Linked DNA regions of Homo sapiens: region 2 is linked to region 1. The links come from fine-mapping of genetic effects on gene expression. A gene starts in region 1. The other region holds a variant in brackets. All regions are shown on one strand. Distances are from middle to middle.

Region 1 (10,240 bases):
TCCAGGATCAGAGCAGGTGAGACAAGATTGGCCATGAATTGCTCATTGTTAAAGCTGGAGGACAGAAACGTGAGGATTCTATTTTATGTTCGAAATTTTCCATTAAATATATACATATGCAAAAAATATATATATATACACAGACATATGCGTATATATGAGTCTGTGTGTGCGCACTTGTGTGTGTTACTGAGAGGCTACCACAAAATTGTAACAATTCCTGAACAACTTATGATCCTGCACCTAAGAAATAATAAAGAGCAAACCTGATTCCCTCTGCACCCTGAGGAGCTTTCAGGAGGCAAGGTTCTAAATGCCCCATGCAGACCTGAGATTTTTCTCTTGCTCAAGTCCATGTGATGGAGTAGGAAGTTCAGATGTCCAGGGATGATCACTTTCGCAAGATGTCTCAGGACAGCAATTTCTAAGAAATGAAACCTTTTCATGCACTTTTCCCTGACAAGCAGCTGGGAGCAGGGGCTGGGCCAAGAGTAAGTGAAAGTATACCTAAGTGTGGTCATGGGCCCCAGGTCAATACATAAAGTCTAGGTGAGAACCAAAGCAACAACAAAATATTAAATATAAAATGGGCTGGATAACTAGAGGGAGCCAAGGTATAATGCCAGGCACATTAGGATGGAGAAAATGTAAAATACAAAGAGGGCGGAAAGGTACAAAAGGAAGGCACAACTAAATATTTCCCTGGGGAGCCTTTCCGGGGACTTTTCCTGCAGCAGCCGCATCAGGACAAATGAGGTGCCAGCTGAAAAACTGGTGGATAAAATAATGACCATAAAACTGCTTCAAAAACTGTGAAACCATGCGCACAAGGGAGGAATCGCTCAGAGGCTACATACCACAGATGAGGTTGAGTGCTTACTATGCGTAAGGCACTTTATAAGCTCCCAGTACACAGTGGTTAAAAACATAAAATGTCCTGCTTCACTGAGTTAACATTATAGTGAGGCAAACTCATGTAACTGCCAATTATTTAGAAGTGTGATAACTTCACCTAAAAATACTGCCAGCTTCTTTTTAGAAATCAGAAGATCTAGGCCGGGCGCAGGGGCTCACGCCTGTAATTCCAGCACTTCGGGAGGTCAAGGCAGGCTGATCACTTGAGCTCAGGAGTTTCAGACCAGCCTGGGCAACATAGTGAGACCCTGTCTCTGAAAAAAATATATAAAAATTAGCCGGGTAGTGGCATGTGTCTGCAGTCCCAGCTGCAGTGGGCTATGATTGCACCACTGCACTCTAGCCTGTTTTTTGAGAAGGAGTCTCGCTCTGTTGCCCAGGCTAGAGTGCAGTAGCGCGATCTCGGCTCACTGCAAGCTCCACCTCCCGGGTTCACGCTATTCTCCTGCCTCAGCCTCCAGAGTAGCTGGGACTACAGGCGCCCACCACCACGCCCAGCTAATTTTTTGTATTTTTAGTAGAGACAGGGTTTCGCCATGTTAGCCAGGATGGTCTCGATCTCCTGACCTTGTGATCTGCCCACCTCGGCCTCCCTAAGTGCTGCAATTACAGGCGTGAGCCACCGCGCCAAGCCCTCAAAATAATATCATCAGAAGATCCAGCAGGGCTTGGTCTGTAATCCTGCATGGCAACAAGAGACTGGAACTAGTGGCTGCTTCCTTTAGACAGGAAATGTGGCCTTCAGCTCACCACACTCCCCACCATCCCCTATTGTCTTACACTCTGCCCTACTTCACTCTATGCTATCTGCCTGAGCTCTGCAGGCTTTCAAGTTTGTGATTCCTGCTCCCTCATGTCCCCAAGCTGTTTGTGATACTTGCCTCTCCTAAAACCACCAAATAGCCCAAGGAGAATATAAAGAACCCTACTCTTATTTGAATCTGAATCCTGGGTTGCCATTTAATCTGATGTAACCTTGGGCAGTGACATCACCTTGCTCAAGTCTCAATGCCCTAAACTCTAAAATGAAGGTAATCATATCTGGTTTATAGGATTTTTGTGAGGACTAGGCTTTGCCTAATTAGCTCTTCTCCTTTGGATCTCACCCCTAGCACTGCTTCTTCAAAAAAACCTTTCCAGACCTCCCAAATAGATCAAATCCCTCTGACAGACATAGGTTCTCAGCACCATGTCTCTTCTTGGTGGCACCCATCTCCCTTAGAATTGTACTTGAGTTTGTGGATTACTTATTTAATTCCTGCCTCTCCCACCAGACTGAAAACTCAATAATGGGAGGGGAATCCTGCTTTTGCTCCCTACCTACCACCATATCTGGCATTAAATAGGTCCTCAATAAGTATTATTTAAAAAGAAAAATGAGCTGTGTAAGGATGCTGATACAACCCCTGGCATATACGAGGTACCCCACTGATTCTCTCTGCCCCACCCTCAGGTAATGCCTGTTATGTACATGGTACCCTAAGCTTCTGGGGCTAAAATTGGCTCAATTTTTAACATTTGGGAAACAAGTGATTAGGTTGTGTTTTCTAATAAGCTATCTACCTCCCAGAATAAGGATTTTTGTTTTGCCCACTGACATACATGTAGCCGAACTGGTGTCCAGGCCACTCGTCGCCTGAAAGCCAAAAACTCAAAAGACAAGCTTTGGTGAAAGCAAAGTTAGCTTTATTCGAGAAACCAGCAACCTGCAAAAGGCAGTGCACTAGCATTCAAAGACCACCTTTCTCAGTTGTGCCTCTAGATCCAGGGATTTTAAGGAAAATTAGGAGAAATAATGATCAAAACATTCTTGTGGGCCAGGAGCGGTGGCTCATACTTGTAACCCCAGCAATTTGGGAGGCCGAGGCAGGTGGATCACTTGAGGTCAGGAGTTCGAGACCATCCTGGCCAACATAGTCAAACATCATCTCTACTAAAAATACAAAAATTAGCCAGGTGCGGTGGCACACGCCTGTAGTCCCAGCTACTCAGGAGGCAGAGGCTACAGCGAACCAACATCACTGCACTCCAGCCTGGGAGACAGACCAAGACTGTCTCAAAAAACAAAACAAAGAAACATTCTTGTGAATCATGCGCAGTCTCAGATGGGCAGTTAGTCATTACTTTCTTGGTCAATGCCTTGTGACTAGACTGTGCAGGGGCCATCAGCCTGTTCCCAAAGCTGCGGGTCTGTGTGTTTTATCTGTTGAAGAAGGTCCTGTTTTTTTCTGTGGCTGTTTTTAGTGAATAGTTTACAAACTCAGGCAAAACAATAATTATACTCAAGCAAGCAAGCTTTTCTCTAACATAGAGTCAGTACTGCTGTTACCCGTTGCAGGGCCTAGGGGACTTAGCTGGACGCCTACCTGGCTTTTGTTACCCAATGCAATGCCTCCATGACATAGCTAAATTCCTACTCAGATTTAACTCTGCTTATTTTTAGAAAACAGGTTGTCTGTGGTCATAGGTTCCTTCTTAGCTTACTCGACCTCTGAAGAACCTCTAGCTTCATTCTAATCCAACTTCAGTACTAAATGACATTCCCACTGGTTGCCATGACAGTTGACAATCACCGTGATGACCCGAAGAGACCAAAAAAAGGACAAAAAAAGGGGCAGCTCCTTGATTCCAGGAAAATCTACCTCCCTTCCCAAGAAAAAACATGAATATTCCTCCTCTTGTTCTTAATTTTTATTTTTTTTAGAGACAGGGTCTTACCATGTTGCCCAAGCTGGTCTCCAATTCCTGGGCTCAAGCTTTCCTTCTGCCTCCTCGCCTTGCTCTTAATGCCCAGCCCCTTCATTAAGGACACCTGACGACTAAGCTCTGATTCTTTTGTTTTTTTTTTCTGTTTTGTTTTGTTTTTGACACAGAGTCTCACTTTGTCAACCAAGCTGGAGTGCAGTGGCACAATCTCAGCTCATTGCAACCTCCGCCTCCCGGGTTCAAGTTGAGTCTCATGCCTCAGCCTCCCAATCAGCTAGAATCACAGGCGTGTGCCACCATGCCCAGCTAATTTTTGTATTTTTAGTAGAGACGGGGTTTCGCCATGTTGGCCAGGCTGGTCTTAAACTTCTGACCTCAAGCGATCCACCTGCCTTGGCCTCCCAAAATGCTGGGATTATAGGCGTGAGCCACCACGACCAGCCTAAACTCTTGATTTTTTTAATCCTGCCCAAATTCCTATCTAAGGGATCTGGGGAGTCATGACCTACAAACCATAAATTCTCATCAGATGGGTTTTATTTAATCCTATATATGATGACTTACTTTCCATTCTGACTCTGGCATAACATTACGTGACAAAAAGAAAGTCAAAATATTTTACCCCAAAACATGTTTCCTTGCCCTATTTTGCAATTTCTTCCATAAAGGACAGCATTTTCCCCCAAAAGCTATCCTTTGTGGGGTAAAATGTGCATCTGTAAAGAACATCTATTAACATAGCTAGATGTTTTTCTTCCAGGCCCTCCCAATCCTAAACGGATTAACTAAAAGTCTAACACCTTTTGAAGATCTGAATAGGAAACATTTGTCATCTATTATCTCTAAGAGCAGCCACCATAAGACTTCAAAAGAACCTTAGTCTCCACTATCTTTTATCTTAACCTGAACACTTCCTTTCTATCAATCCCAGGTCTTCAGACAAACTCAACCAATTGTCAACTAGAAAATATTTAAATTTACCTATAGCCTGGAAGCCCCCACCCCCACCCCTTTGCGTTGTCCCGCCTTCCTGGACCAAACCAATGTATTTAATGTATTTGACTGATGTCTCATGCCAACCTAAAACATAAAACCAAGCTGCACCCCGACCACCTTGGGCACATGTTCTCAGGGCCTCGAGAGGGCTGTATCACAGGCTGTGGTTACTCGTATTTGGCTCACAATAAATCTCTTCAAATATTTTGCACGGTTTTACTTTTCGTCAACACTCCCTATTACCTGTAACTTCTCAGTTTCCAAGAGCTGAGAGCTTGATTTGCGAGCTACCCTCCCACTTCTCCAATTCCATGGCCACTGAATGAAGGCTGCACTGCCTGATACTCACACTTGGTCTCATGCGCTGGCTCTGCAACAACGGACAGACAAGAGTTCCTTTGGGGGAAACCAGCTTCCCAGGTGACACTGTTGCCTCTGCTACATGCGCAAAGCGCAGCCTGGCACATAGTAGGTGCTCAAGAGAGGGAAAGCCGGGTCTATGAATTCAGGGACAGGGGCAGCACCAGAAGAGAGCAAGCTGGGGCCTGGCTGGCTGAACCCTGGCCCCGAGACCCCTGTGACCCCCCTTCTCATCAGGATGCACCACATGAACCTCCCCAACGCGAGGGCCAACAAGTGGCCCCAGATGAGACCGCGCCGGGAAGGGCCTGGGGCCACGCACAGATACTTCCGCCAGAAAAACACCACGCCGCGCCGTGCACCTCCGCCAGAGGAAGAAGGTCCCGCAGGGTCGGGGTAACCGCTCCATCCCCGACCGCAACCCTGGACCAGGTACAAGGAACAGATCCCTCCACCGGAACGCCGTGTCCCTCCGCCAGACACAGGAGTCCCCGCTCCCGTGCTCTCCTTCCCCGGCAGCCAGGCCCCGGTGCCGACTCCTCCGCCTCAGGGAGGCCCCGCCGCCGCCTAGATTCTCCGCCTGAAGCGGGACTCGCGACGGCAGGTTCCCTAGAATCCCTCTGTGTCCCTCCGCCCCGGGGAGGACCCTCCGCGCCCCTCTACAATCTTAAAGTCCCTCAGCGACGAGTCACCGCGCCGCGCGCTCTCGCGAGAGTCCACCGCACGGCCCCCCCCCCCTCCCCCAGCCCCTCGCCCGCCAGGACGCCTCGCGCGGGCCCCGCGGCGCTCGGTGGCAGGCGGCGCATGCGTGACTGCGGTTCCCAGCGCCCCCCGCGCTCTCCGCGGGCCGAGTGGACGAGGCCGAACGCGAGCAGCCTGCCGCTGCCCCCTGCGAGCCCTGGCTTCGCCCCGCAGCTCTTCTCCCTTCCGGGCGGAACAGTTTTTGCGGCCTTTCCTCGGCGGCAGCGGTTTCCTCAGGACGGTCGGGGCCGTCGTGGGCCCGAAAGAGCCCGGCGCCGCTCTCGGAATCCGGCGGCCCCAGCGGCACCCGCGGCGGCCTGGACGTGCTGCGGTGACCCGAGCCCGGAACCTGGCGCCGGGCGGGGCCTGCACATCCGGCCCCACCCACTCGGGGACTCGCCTCTCCGCGCCCGACCCGGGAGTAGCGGACACACCCCCTCCCGGCCCGGCTGTCCGCCTCCGCCCAGCCTTTCCTCAGCCTGCTTCATTTTTCTCCCAGTCGTCCAGCCTCCCGGTTTCCGACTTTGCACTAAGAGGGATGCACTCTGGAAAACCACATTGCGCGGTCACATCTTGTTTGGAGAAGAGGCCAGGCTTTTGCATCTTAGAGTATACGTTCACCTTTTCAAGGGCCTGGCATAGATTTGATTAATCAGCCTGGAATACCCTGTTCCTGCCGACCTGGCCGTTTTTACCTCCGTACCTTATCACACTCCCAGGAACATTAAGCAGGGAGCGCTTGGAGTCTTCTTTGGGTCCCCACCTTGAGCTAGACGTGAAGTTGACCCCTGGGCTGCAGCATGGCTGTCGCCCTCGACTCTCAGATCGACGCGCCCCTGGAGGTTGAGGGATGCCTAATAATGAAGGTGGAAAAGGACCCTGAGTGGGCATCAGAGCCCATTCTGGAAGGATCGGATAGCTCTGAGACCTTCCGCAAATGCTTCAGGCAATTCTGTTATGAGGATGTGACTGGACCCCATGAAGCTTTCAGTAAACTCTGGGAACTTTGCTGCCGGTGGCTGAAGCCAGAAATGCGTTCCAAGGAGCAAATACTTGAGCTGCTGGTGATTGAGCAGTTTCTCACCATTTTACCCGAGAAGATTCAGGCTTGGGCACAGAAGCAGTGTCCGCAAAGTGGAGAGGAAGCGGTGGCCCTGGTAGTGCATTTGGAGAAAGAGACTGGAAGACTAAGACAGCAGGTGAGAGAGGATTTTCCAAATTTTTGTACTTAGAAAAAAGGGAATGGGAAAGGCATGTGGGCAGGGATGTATTGCAGAAAGACGTGCTCTTCAGAGAAAGATAAATGGTACTAATAAAAGACCCTATAAGGGGGTCTTTTCACTTTAAGTGAATCCACTTAAAAGGGGATCAGAATTTCACATGAAATAGAAAAATAAAAGCTTTGATTGAAATATTATCTTACAATGGAAACCAGACATTATTCACCTAAGCATTTATCGTCATCTTTGGCATAATGTTTGCAACAAAACAATATAAGAGAACAATATGGTTTTGCGTCACAGAGGTTCACTTACGCATTTTGATCAAAAAAGGCTATTCTGTTCCCCCTTTAAAAAAAAAAAAAAAAGACTTCATCCGTTATCCCAGAGCCGTCTCCAAGCGTTTTACTGTTGCACTCAGTGTCTTCTGAAGTGCTCTCATGCCTTCATTTCTGTCACTCTCCTCCAGTCTAACTGCCACATCTTCATTTCTCAGTGGCTTGCATGCTCTTCTAGTTGTTCTTCAACCTCACTTTCATGAACCTCGTGAAATCCTGCAGCATTTGCAAGATTTGCGGTTTCACCTTGCATCAGACTTGCATTGTGTAGAGATCTATCAGCAGGTTGCTGTATTGGTCAGGGATAGACAGATAGATGTGGATATTAATTTTGTAAGTTTTCATTTCACTACTGTATATATTCATGTCCTGGTAACTTCTTTGCGAACGTAACAGATATAGAGTCAAATAATATCTATTCTAGCAACAAGGAGGCTCTTTCACTCCTGACAGATTTCCTTCTCTGTTTAGTATTAAATATTATTCTGGCCAGGCGCGGTGGCTCACATCTGTAATCCCAGCACTTTGGGAGGCCGAGGCATGTTGATCACCTGAGGTCAGGAATTCGAGACCAGCCTGACCAACATAATGAAACCCCATCTCTACTAAAAAAATATAAAATTAGCCGGTTGTGTTGGTGCATGCCTGTAATCCCAGCTACTTGGGAGGCTGAGAGAGGAGAATCGCTTGAACCTGGGAGGTGGAGGTTGCAGTGAGCCAAGATCGTGCCATTGCACTCCAGCCTGGGCAACAAAAGTGAAACTCTGTCTCAGAAAAAAGAACACTGTTCTGTTACCTTACACCCAGACTGCTGGACAGTACTCTCAGCCCAGCGCTCTCAGAGACTCCACTGGGAATGGAGTGGAATTTTCATTCCTTCTCATGTCTCTGTCCTTCTTTGATGTCTTTCCTGGGAGAATTTCGCCCTGATATGGGCCTGTTTTACTCCCTCTTATGGTATTGACTTCATTTCTCAGGTCAGCAGTCCCGTGCACCGGGAGAAGCACTCCCCACTTGGAGCAGCGTGGGAGGTGGCAGACTTCCAGCCAGAGCAGGTGGAGACCCAACCCAGGGCGGTGTCTCGGGAGGAACCTGGAAGCCTCCACTCAGGACACCAGGAACAGCTGAACCGAAAGCGAGAACGTCGGCCCTTACCCAAGAATGGTAAGAGGGAAGACTCGGAGCACGCCTAGTGCAGAGGCTGGGGCAGATTTCCGCAGTACCCCAACGCTGTGAATGTGCAGTGGAGGGCCTCCTTGATACATATTCAGAATAGGAGAAAGGTTTCATTCACTTCAAGAATTAGGAACATGTGCAATATAAGTGAAAAGGTATCATAAAGATGGAAACTGAGTCTGGGCAACATGGGAAAACCCAGTCTCTACAAAATCGCAAAAAAAAAAAAAATATTAGCCAGGTGTGTTGGCGTGCACCTGTGGTCTCAGCTACTCAGGAGGCTGAGTCAGGAGGATTGCTTGAACCCAGGAGGTTGAGGCTGCAGTAAGCCGTGATCACACCACTGTATTCCAGCCTGGGTGACAGAGCGAGACCCTGTCTCAAAAAAAAAAAAAAAAAGATCCAAACTGGGGAAACTTAGATTGCCTGGGCCAGCTATGAGATCCTGTGGTGGTAAACTCTCCATGGCTGGACACAGTGACTCACGTCGTAATCCCAACACTTTGGGAGGCCGAGGCAGGCGGATCTCTTGAAGCCAGGAGTTCAAGACCAGCCTGGGCAAGATAGCGAGACAAACACATTTTCTCTACAAAAAAATAAAATAAGATCTACATTCTACAATCATCATGTGTTTTTCAGTCCTGCCATGTGTATGTGCTCTTGGCTGACTATAAATAAGTCAAAAAGCTGTTTGAAAGGGAACAAGGCATTTGTGTTCAAAGTTTGACTCACAGGCCATCACAGAAGTGGCATACAAGAGAGATAAACAGTTAAGATTTCACAGGGAAGGGACCACTGACATTCATAGCTGCCCTGCACATTAATGACTCAGGTCAAATGCTAGGAAATGAATACCCTGTCCTTCCCAGTCCACAGTGATCTCTCCATCTCCTGAAGTGTGGCTTCATCTCAGTCTTAAAGAGAGGAATGGAAACATCACTAAACCTGCCGTCAGAAGTCTTCTGTTTATATCTTGTCTCTGCCACCTTCTGTCTGTGATCTTGGGCAAATAATATGAAAAGACGCATGAATGCACAGAGGCTAAGAGCTTAGGCTTTAGAGACAGACAGACCTAGATTCAAAACCTAGCTCTGCCATTTTTTTATCTATGTGGCCTTGGTCAGGATACTTAACTTCTCAAGCTTTCCATTCTCTCATCTTTATTTTATTTTATTTTATTTTATTTTTTCTTTGAGGTGGAGTCTTGTTCCAGGTTAGCGTGCAGTGGCACGATCTCAGCTCACAGCAACCTCCGCCTCCCAGGTTCCAGCAATTCTCGTGCCTCAGTCTCTCGAGTAGCTGGGATTACAGGCGTGTGCCATCATGCCTGGCTAATTTTTGTATTTTTAGTAGAGATGGGGTTTCACCATGTTGACCAGGCTGGTCTTGAACTCCTCACGTTAGGTGATCTGCCCGCCTTGGCCTCCCAAAGTGCTGGGATTACAGGCGTGAGCCACCACACCCAGTCCTCTCATCTTTAAGAGGGAAATAGCAAGGCTATTTGTGCAGATTAAATGCGGCAGCATGAAGGAGCCAGTGCATAATAGTGCTCAATAAATGCTAGTTTCCTTTCCCCCAGAATGGCACAATTATTTTTAAACCTCAAGTCTGTCTGATTTACCCAGCCCTTCACTGAGAGGCAAGATTCAGTACTACTATACTGTTTTATGCCTCCCCAAATTTATATTATGATGGAATGCATTGCAAATGTCCATGATTGAGAGAGACAGAGAGAGAGAGAGAGAGAGAGAGAGGAAGGGAGAAAAGGGAAGGGAGGGGGAAAGGAAG
Region 2 (10,240 bases), 130 kb before region 1:
GTCCCAGCTACTTGGGAGGCTGAGGCAGGAGAATTGCTTGAACCTGGGAGGCAGAGGTTGCAGTGAGCCGAGATCACACCATTGCACTCCAGCCTGGGTGACAGAGCGAGAATCCATCTCAAAAAAAAAATAAATAAATAAATAAGTAAGTAAGTAAAATAGAACAGAATAAAACATCTCCCATACCCTTCCAAAGTGATTGAGAAATATTTTTCTAAGGAGAAGGAAAAAGAACTAGTATTTTTAGATATTATGCAGTGTAGCTGGCATTACGCTAAGTACTTGTATAATCCCTACAAACTTATAAAGTATAGACTTATAGTGGACACTGGGAAATGCTGTCAAGATCCCCTCTTCAAAACCAATGCACTCTAACTGCTGGGAATAGAGGCTGTTAGAAGCCCACAGCTGTACCTCTCACTAAAAACTGCCCTCAGTTATATGGAATGACATCATCCAAGGTCATACACCCTCGGCATGGTATATGGCCACAGATTGATTAATGTAAAGGTTCAAAGGCTCAGCCCTTCTCTCCCAATTTGAGACAACTTGAAGGGTTATCCCAACTCTGAAGTCCCTATCCAAGTTCCAGAGATCTCAGTTACAGCCACATTGCAGGTCAGTTTATCCCTTCTACAATTCTCACTTTCTTACAAGTATGTCTCCCCAGTAAGACTCTGCTTGCAAGTCTCAGTTTATTTCTAAAAATCCACTTTAAAGTTGTACTATTATCTCTATTATTCAGATGATAAACGCTTCAGAGAATTTTACCAAAGGTCTGCAGTCACACAGCTGATGGTAATTCCAAAGTTACATGGTTCCCAAATTGAGTCTCCTCCAATCATCCATTCCACATCTTTTCCCATTTTCCAGGTGCCTTAATTACTGGAAGGGTGTCCTAAGGATTAGACCTGAGACTTCTTGTCACTGCAGTGGTTTATCTTCCCTCCTTGTAATAGTGCAAATTTGGTTTGTAAATTAGACTCAGTGTGTCTAGACAATGTGAGTCTGTCCCTAAAGAGATCCCATTTCTAAGGGAATGGATAAAATAGTTTCAGACACTTTGAGTCAGTCTTGCCTGAGAATCTGCCTGTCATCACTGTAGCTACCCTGGTCTTTTATATCATCTGCTTGGTCCACAATGATAAATGTTTTATAGCTTTCCAACAGGACCAAAGCAGACTTCTGACTATGTTCTCCATAGCAATAAGCTCTCTCTGGGTACTTCAGGTAGACTAACTTGGAGGAGCATATTTAAAGAACAGGGGCCAGGCATGGTGGCTTAGACCTGCAATCTTAGCACTTTAGGAGGCTGAGATGGGAGGATCGCTTGAGCCCAAGAGTTCAAGACCAGCCTGGGCAACACAGCGAAACCCTGTCTCTACAAAAATCAAAAAATTAGCTGGGTATGGTGGCACATGCCTGTAGTCCCAGCTACTCAGGAGGCTGAGATGGGAGGATTGCTTGAGCCCGGGAGGTGGAAGGTGTAGTGAGCCATGATCATGCCACCACACTCACAGAGTGGGACGCTGTCTCAAAAAAATTTTTTTTTAGGAAGAAGAGGGTGAGATTATTTAGAGAAATGTGCAGCTCCAAATTCTGTGAGTCCAGCCCATCAAGGCTGTGGGCAAGGGGGATCAGGATGAGTGGCACCTGGGGAGCCCTAGACATGGAGAGTTGTATCTCCGGGCTTTGAATTTCAAATGCAGCAACCAGCAAAGTGATTTATTAGACTGACCTCATGGATCTATATCAGATACATCTCAACTTCACATAAGGATCAACAATCCCAGAAATTGCCTTAATATTGGAAAAAATATATATATATATATATCCTTTTTATGGCTGCCTTTGAGAACCTCATACAACGAATGACTCTGAAAAATAGTAATTTTTCTGTATAGAAGATGAAAAGAGATTCTTTGATTTGTTTATCTCCATTTTAAAATTGTTTGATTCTTTTCATTTATTTTTCTTTTTAAATTACAAAAACAATAATATTGATGATAAATTTTTGGACAATATGGAAGAGCATAAAATAATAAGTAAATTCCCATTTAATCCTCTCCCAAATCCACCCTTCTGAGATGTTATGGTCTGGGGTATGTTCTTTCAGACTTTTCTCAATGTCTTGTCAAATTTACATATGTACATACATACAAACTTGGAAAAATATACTTACACACACACAAACACACATATATACAAACACATATAGTTGTAACATAAATGTTATTATGTTTTATGTTCATTGTCTTCTGTTATTCAACACAATCCAATGGATTATTGTATTATGCATCTAGTCAATGCAACTCATTGCCACTTAATTATCAGCAACTACAGTGAGAATACTGATCATAAAGCGTATTTTGAGCAGACAGTGTTTCAAGGGCTTTTCATCTATTAACACATTTACTCTTCATGCACTGTTTACAGATGAGGAAACTGAGAACCCCAGACATAGCATTAAACTTGCCCAAGGGCACACAGTCAGTAAGTGACTTAGCTAGGATTTGGGCTCAGGTAGTTTGACTTAAGAACCCTGTTCTAGATGCTGGAGAGGATGTGGAGAAATAGGAACACTTTTACACTGTTGGTGGGAGTGTAAATTCGTTCAACCATTGTAGAAGACAGTGTGGCGATTTCTCAAGGATCTAGAATCAAAAATATCATTTGACCCAGCAATCCCATTACTGGGTATATACCCAAAGGATTGTAAATCATTCTACTATAAAGATATGCACACATATGTTTATTGCAGCACTTTTCACAATAGCAAAGACTTGGAACCAACCCAAATGTGCATCAATGATAGACTGAATAAAGAAAATGTGACACATATACACCATGGAATACTATGCAGCCATAAAAAAGGATGAGTTCATGTCCTTTGCAGGGACATGGATGAAGCTGGAAACCATCATTCTCAGCAAACTAATACAGGAACAGAAAACCAAACACCTCATGTTCTCACTCATAAGTGGGAGTTGAACAATGAGAACACATGGACACAGGGAGGGGAACATCACACACCGGGGCCTGTTGGCGGGTGGGGGGCTAGGGGAGGGATAGCATTTGGAGAAATATCTAATGTAGATGACGGGTTAATGCGTGCAGCAAACCACCATGGCACTTGCATACCTATGTAACAAACCTGCACGCTCTGCACATGTATGCCAGAACTTAAAGTATAATTTAAAAAAAACCTGTTCTGATAGTATGGGGAACATCTCTCTAATCAATCACAACAGGAAATTGGGAGAAGATGCCCTGGACACTCCCAAGGTAACAGAGTGACCCATTGCAAGGTCTATCACCAAATCCTGAGGTTCCCAAATGTCTATTTCAGAGGCTCTGAAGACTGAGTGCATACAGGTTTCCCCTATGTAGAGTTGCCACCGCCACATACTCCAGGAGGAATGGTCCATGAAGCTTAATCTCAGAAATAAAATCTGAACCTAAAACATAACTACCATTCAACCCAGCAATCTCATTGCCAGGTATGTATCCAAAAGAAAATAAATTGTTCTACCAAAAAGACACATGCACTCATATGGTCATTTCCGCACTATTCACAATACTAGAGACATGGAATCAACCTAGGTGCCCATCAACAGTGGATTCAATAAGGAAAATATGCACATATACTCCATGGAATACAATACAGCCATAAAAAAGAATGAAATCACATCCTTTGCAGCAACGTGGATGCAGCTGGGGGCCATTATCCTGTGCAAATTAACACAGGAACAGAAAACCAAATCCCACTTAGAAGAAGGAGGTAAACATTGAGTACTTACAGACATAAAGATGACAACAATAGACGCTGGGGACTACTAAAGTGGGGAAGCAGTGAGGGGCAAGCATTGAAAAACTAACTGGTGGGTACTATGCTCACTACCTGGGTAACGGGATCATTCATACTCCCAACCTCAGCATCATGCAATATACCTAGGTAACAAACCTGCACATGTACCCACTGAATCTAAAATAAAAGTTGAAAACATTTTTTTAAAAAAGAAATAAAATCTTAGTAAAGGATCCCAGTGTCTTCATTTATTGTAGCCTCTAAAGACCAGCACACAACACTGGATTTTATTTTGGATTTTATTATGATTCAGAGGAAACACGAAGCATAAGTTTTAAAATTAAGAACACAGTAGGCATTTAACAAAAGGTAGATGGGTGATGGATGATGGATGCACAGGTGAACAAACGAACATGCAGAAAAAACAAAGGAGAGCCATGAAAGCTGCCTTGAGCCCTAGAAATGAACCTGTATTAATCTGTTCTCACACTGCT[G/A]TAAAGAACTACCTGAGACTGGGTAATTTATAAAGAAAAGAGGTTTAATTGACTCACAGTTCCACGGGCTTAACATGAAGCATGGCTGAGAGGCCTCAGGAAACTTACAGTCATGGCGGAAGGTGAAGGGGAAACAAGCACCTTCTTCATGTGGTGGCAGGAGAGAAAGTGTGAGGGAGGAAGTGTCATACACTTTCAAACCATCAGATCTTGTGAGAACTCACTCACTATCACGAGAACAGCATGGGAAATTCCACCCCCACAATCCAATCACCTCCCACTAGGTCCCTCCCCCAACATTGGGAATTACAATTCAACATGAGATTTGGGTGGGAACATATTGCCAAACCATACCAGAGCCCAAGTCTTAACCCTTGAATCACAGCTTGTCCCTGGCTCCAGGTGCAGAATGTTCCTGTAGTTCCAGCAACACTCATATTGAGACGGAGTCTCATTCTTGTCGCCCAGGCTAGAGTGCAGTGGCACAATCTTGACTCACTGCAACCTCCACCTCTGGGTTCAAGCAATTCTCCCGCCTCTGCCTCCCAAGTAGCTGGGATTACAGGCACCTGAAACCAGGCTCAGCTAATTTTTGTATTTTTAGTAGAGACGGGGTTTCATCATGTTGGCCAGGCTGGTCTTGAACTCCTGACCTCAGTTGATCCACCCGCCTCAGTCTCCCGAAGTGCTGGGATTACAGGCGTGAGCCACCATGCCTGGCCAACACTCGTATTTTTCTGATTTGGAGATTTAATGGGTACTTCACAGACCCCACTGAACCCTGAAGGTCACTTCTTTGCCACTTTTCCACCAACCAGTTCTCTCTTGGACTTTTCTTGCCTTCTTTCTTACTAGCCTTCCTTCTGATTTTCTCTGACTTCTTTAATTTTCCTTTATTAATTTTATCTGGCTCTCTTGCTCTAATTAAAAATGTAGTATTTGCTCAATATAACCAGTGAAATAATGCAAAGATATACAAAGAAACACTTCTTAATGCTTCCCCTTCCATTCCAGCCTTCCTGAGATAACCAATATTAACAGCCTAGAGAGTGTTTTTCCACTTCTTTCTTATACTCATGGAAACATACACAAACACATAATCATACATAGAAAGGATTTTTGGTTGGTTTCACAAAAATAAGATCATGGTATCCACCTTGTTTTACAACTTTTTTCATCCTAAATTATCAGGAGACCCCGCCCAGTCAATCGGTATAGATATAACTCATTTTTGATGTCGTTAAACATGTTTTATACTTATTACACAGCAAAATCAACCTTTTGGGAGTGTATAGTTCTATGAATTTCAGCAATGTCTGCATTCACGTGATCACCACCACAATAAACATGTACATTTCCACCACCCCAAAAAGTTCCTTCACATCCAGTAGTCACACCCTCCTTCCATCCCTAAGCCCCAACAACCACTAATCTGTTCTTCAACATTATAGTTTTGTCATTTCAAGAATGTCACATCGGCCAGGCATGGTGGCTCACGCCTGTAATCCCAGCACTTTGGGAGACTGAGACTTTGGGAGACAACAAATAAATCAGCCAAGTATAGTGGCACATGCCTGTGATCCCAGCTACTTGGGAGGCTGAGGCAAGAGGATGGCTTGAGCTCTGGAGTTTGAGGCTGCAGTGAGCTATGATTATACCACTGCACTCTAGCCTGGGCAGCAGAGTGAAGCCCTTTCTCTAAAAAATTAAAAAAAAATAATTTTGTGGCTGAGAGAAAGGCTAGCATTTCTGTTGGCGATAATAGTATCTGTCTCTCAGGGGTCTTGTTAGGATCTTCAAAGACAGATCTGTCAGCAGCACTTTGGGAGACTGAGGCAGGTGGATCACCTGAGGTCAGGAGTTCAAGACCAGCCTGACCAATATGGTGAAACCCCATCTCTACTAAAAATACAAAAATTAGCTGGGTGTGGTGGCATGTGCCTGTAATTCCAGCTACTTGGGAGGCTGAGGCAGGAGAATCACTTGAACCCGGGAGACGGAGATTGCAATGAGTCGAGATCATGTCACTGCACTCTAGCCTGGGTGACAGAGTGAGACTCCATCTTAAAAAAAAAAAAGAACGTCACATCAATGAAATCACACAATATTTGAAATTGGCTTCTGTTGTCCCACATAATGCATTTGAGATTCCTCTAAGTCGTGTGTACCAATAGTTCACTCAGTTTTGCTGAGTAGTATTTCATAAAAGGGATGTACCACAGTTTATTTTTACTTACTGTTTTTAATGACTGCACTACATTCCATATGTGGACCCACGTATTCAATCAGTCTTGTACTGATGAACATTCAGGCTAGTTTCCAATTTTTCCACAAAGAAACAACGTTGAACATTATATTCTAACAGAGAGATGCTCTAATTTATATAACCCGATTTTTTTTTTTTTTTTGACATGGAGTTCCACTCTTGTTGCCCAGGCTGGAGTGCAATGGCGTGATCTCACCGCAACATTTGCCTCCCAGGTTCAAGCGATTCTCCTGCCTCAGCCTCCCAAGTAGCTGGGATTACAGTCATGTGCCACCATGCCCGGCTAATTTTGTATTTTTAGTAAAGATGGGGTTTCTCCATGTTGGTCAGGCTGGTGTCGAACTCCCAACTTCAGGTGATCCTCCCACCTCAGCCTTCCAAAGTGCTGAGATTACAGGCATGAGCCGTCGTGCCCGGCCATAGTCTGATTATTGAATGTAAGATTGCTTGGTAACACATTTGTGTAGCTTAACACTTAAGTTTTTCCTAGTATTCCTTGTTGTCACATTTCATATTCCCACCAGCAACGTATGAAAGTATTTTCTCACATTTTTGTCACCTTGAAATAGCTTCTCTTTTTAGTTTTTTCCCAGTCTAATGGATTAAAAAAAAAGGGATCTTATTTTAGCTTTAATTTGCATGTCCTTGAGCATCCTTAGAGATAACCTTTGGCCATTTGGATATCCTCTTCAGTGAGGGGTCCACTCATTGCCTTTGCCCATTTTCCTGTCAGGTGGTTTATTTGTTTCTTCTCATGGGAGTTCTTTGCATATTGGATATATTAATAGTTGTTCTGGGCTGGCACAATGGCTTACACTTGTAATCCCAGAACTTTGGGAGGCCAAGGCAGGAGGATCACTTGAGCCCAGGAATTTCAGATCAGCCTGGGCAACATATTGACATCCCATCTCTACAAAAAATAAATTAGCCAAATATAGTGGCACATGCCTGTGATCCCAGCTACTTGGGAGGCTGAGGCAAGAGGATGGCTTGAGCTCTGGAGTTTGAGGCTGCAGTGAGCTATGATTATACCACTGCATTCTAGCCTGGGCAGCAGAGTGAAGCCCTTTCTCTAAAAAATTTAAAAAAAATAATTTTGTGGCTGAGAGAAACGCTAGCATTTCTGTTGGCAATAATAGTATCTGTCTCTCAGGGGTCTTGTTAGGATCTTCAAAGAGATATCTGTCATGATGCCTGTAGGCGATTTGGGTTTTTTTTTTCCTAACCTATTAGAAATTGAGATGATAGTAGGTGATTTTGGAATGTACTTTTCCCTTTTCTCTAATGCAAACACTGAGCCAGGCCCAAGAAAGGGCAGCTGATCTATGCTTTTCACAGGTTGAGGAAGCATGATTTGGAATCCAAAAAGCACAGAGACTTATAGGCCGATCTTCACACAGGTAAGTCCCTTAGGCATAACAATAGCTAATATTTACGTAGCACTTTGTATGCTGGGCACAGTGGCACATGCCTGTAATCCCAGCATTTTGGGTGGCTGAGGCAGGTGGATCACCTGAGGTCAGGAGTTCGAGACTAACCTGACCAACATGGTGAAACCCCGTCTCTACTAAATACAAAAAATTAGCCAGGTGTAGTGGCACATGCCTGTAATACCAGTTACTTGGGAGGCTGAAGCAGGAGAATCACTTGAACCTGGGAGGCAGAGGTTGCAGTGAACCGAGATCATGCTACTGCACTCCAGCCTGGAAGACAGAGTGAGACTCTGTCTCAAAAAAAAAAAAAAAAATACATAGCACTTCGTATATGCCAAGTACTGTGTCAACTCCTTTAATCTTCACATCAACACTACAATATAGGTACTATTATTATTCATATTTAGAGTTTGAAAAAAAAAACTGAGTCACAGAGACCAAGTAACTCACTGAGGATCATATAATCAGTAAACTGCAGTGCTGGGATTTGAACACAGACAGTCTGGCTCCAGCTTCCATGTTCTTAGCTACTATGCCATGCTATGCTATACTGTATTATACTACACCATATTACATTATATGATTATCCAAGAGCAATATCAGAGACTCATGATTAGCTCAGGGTGATAAGTAGGGTACCCTGGGGAAAGTGAGTTATCTAAAGCAAAAGCAAAGGATGAGGGCTGGGTCTTGAGCTCTTCAGCAAATGTGGGCAAAGATTATTCCATTGTCTGATTTCTTGCTGAGAGTTCAAAGCATGCCATTTTCATTTCCAGCCACATGAAAAGCCTTTTGTTTTGTTTTGTTTTGTTTTGTTTTTTCTGACAGAGTAGACCCAGGGCTATGGTTTGGGCATGTCCCCCAAAATGTATGTGTTGCAAACTTGATCCTCAATGTAGCGGTGTTGAGAGGTGGAACCTATGGGCATTGATTGGGTCATAAGAGCTCTGCCCTCATGAATAAATTACTCCATTTATGAATTGATGGATGAATGGGTTATTGAGAAAGTGGGTTAGTTGTCACAAGAGTGGGTATGTTATCAAAGCCAGTTTGTCCATCTCTGCCGAGACCAGCTCAGTCGGGGAGACCCTAACCCAGCAGTGCTAGAGGTATTAAAGACACACACACACAGAAATATAGCACGTAGAGTGGGAAATCAGGGGACTCACAGCCTTCAAAGCAGAGAGCCCCAAACAGAGATTTACCCACATATTTACTGACAGCAAGCCAGTGATAAGCATTGTTTCTATAGATTACAGGTTCACTAAAAGTATTCCTAACGGGAAATAAAGGGATGGGCTCTGGCTAGTTATCTGCAGCATGAACACGTCCTTAAGGCACAGATCACTCATGCTATTGTTTGTGGCTTAGGAATGTCTTTAAGTGGTTTTCTGCCCTGGGGTGGGCCAGGTGTTCCTTGCCCTCATTCTGGTAAACCCACAACCTTCAGCATGGGCATCATGGCCATCATGAACATGTCACAGTGCTGCAGAGATTTTGTTTATGGCCAGTTTGGGGGCCAGTTTATGGCCAGATTTGGGGGCCTATCCCCTGCACATCTCTCATGAGCCTTCTCACCATGTGATGCTCTGTCCCACCTTGGGACTCTGCAGAGAGTCTCCACCAACAAGGCCTCCACCAGAGGCAACCCCTTGACCTTGGACCTCCCAGCCTCCAAAACTGTAAGAAATACATTTCTTTTCTTTATTAATTACCTAGTCTACACTGTGGTCTATGCCTGTAGTCCCAGCACTTTGGGAGGCTGAGGTGGGCGGATTGCTTGAGCCCAGGAGTTCGAGACCAGCCTGGCCAACATGGAAAAAACCCATCTCTACAAAACAAACAAACAAACAAAAACTTAGCCAGGCATTGTGGCATGTGCCTGCGGTCCTCACTACTTGGAAGACTGAGGTGGGAGGGTCACTTGAGCCCAGGAGACAGAGGTTGCAGTGAGCCAAGATTGTGCCACTGCACTCCAGCCTGGGTAACAGTGAGATACCATTCCAAAAATAAATTAATAAATAAAATAAAATAAATTACAGGTACTCAGTTATAGCAACAGAAAATAGACTAAGACACTCAGGAAATCTGTCAGGGTGTTTTGTATGCACAACATAGAAATGAGCTCTAACCAATTTAATCAAAACAGAATTTATTGGAAAGTTTTATAGGGAAGCTCAGAGAACTGAAGGCAAAACTGAACAACCAAAAGGATGTAAATTGGTGCCACTCTGGGCAT

The links.
Region 2: its variant is fine-mapped to the expression of ZKSCAN2 in whole blood (INTERVAL, PIP above 0.99).

What each region holds. Positions count from the first base shown.
Region 1 is chr16:25,253,406-25,263,645 of GRCh38, reverse strand. It overlaps ZKSCAN2 (zinc finger with KRAB and SCAN domains 2), which reads left to right and starts at 5,801. Exons shown (of 7, transcript NM_001012981.5): 1 at 5,801-6,917; 2 at 8,254-8,440. The coding sequence starts at 6,519. It overlaps ZKSCAN2-DT (ZKSCAN2 divergent transcript), which reads right to left and starts at 6,069. Exons shown (of 1, transcript NR_170220.1): 1 at 2,580-6,069. RefSeq lists enhancers at 4,940-5,019, 5,140-5,459, 5,875-6,435 and silencers at 5,670-5,869, 5,950-6,189.
Region 2 is chr16:25,379,018-25,389,257 of GRCh38, reverse strand. No RefSeq gene overlaps it. Among named protein-coding and RNA genes, the nearest start is that of LINC02191, 50 kb to the left of the region's middle. The variant G/A (reference allele first, on the strand shown) is at 4,303.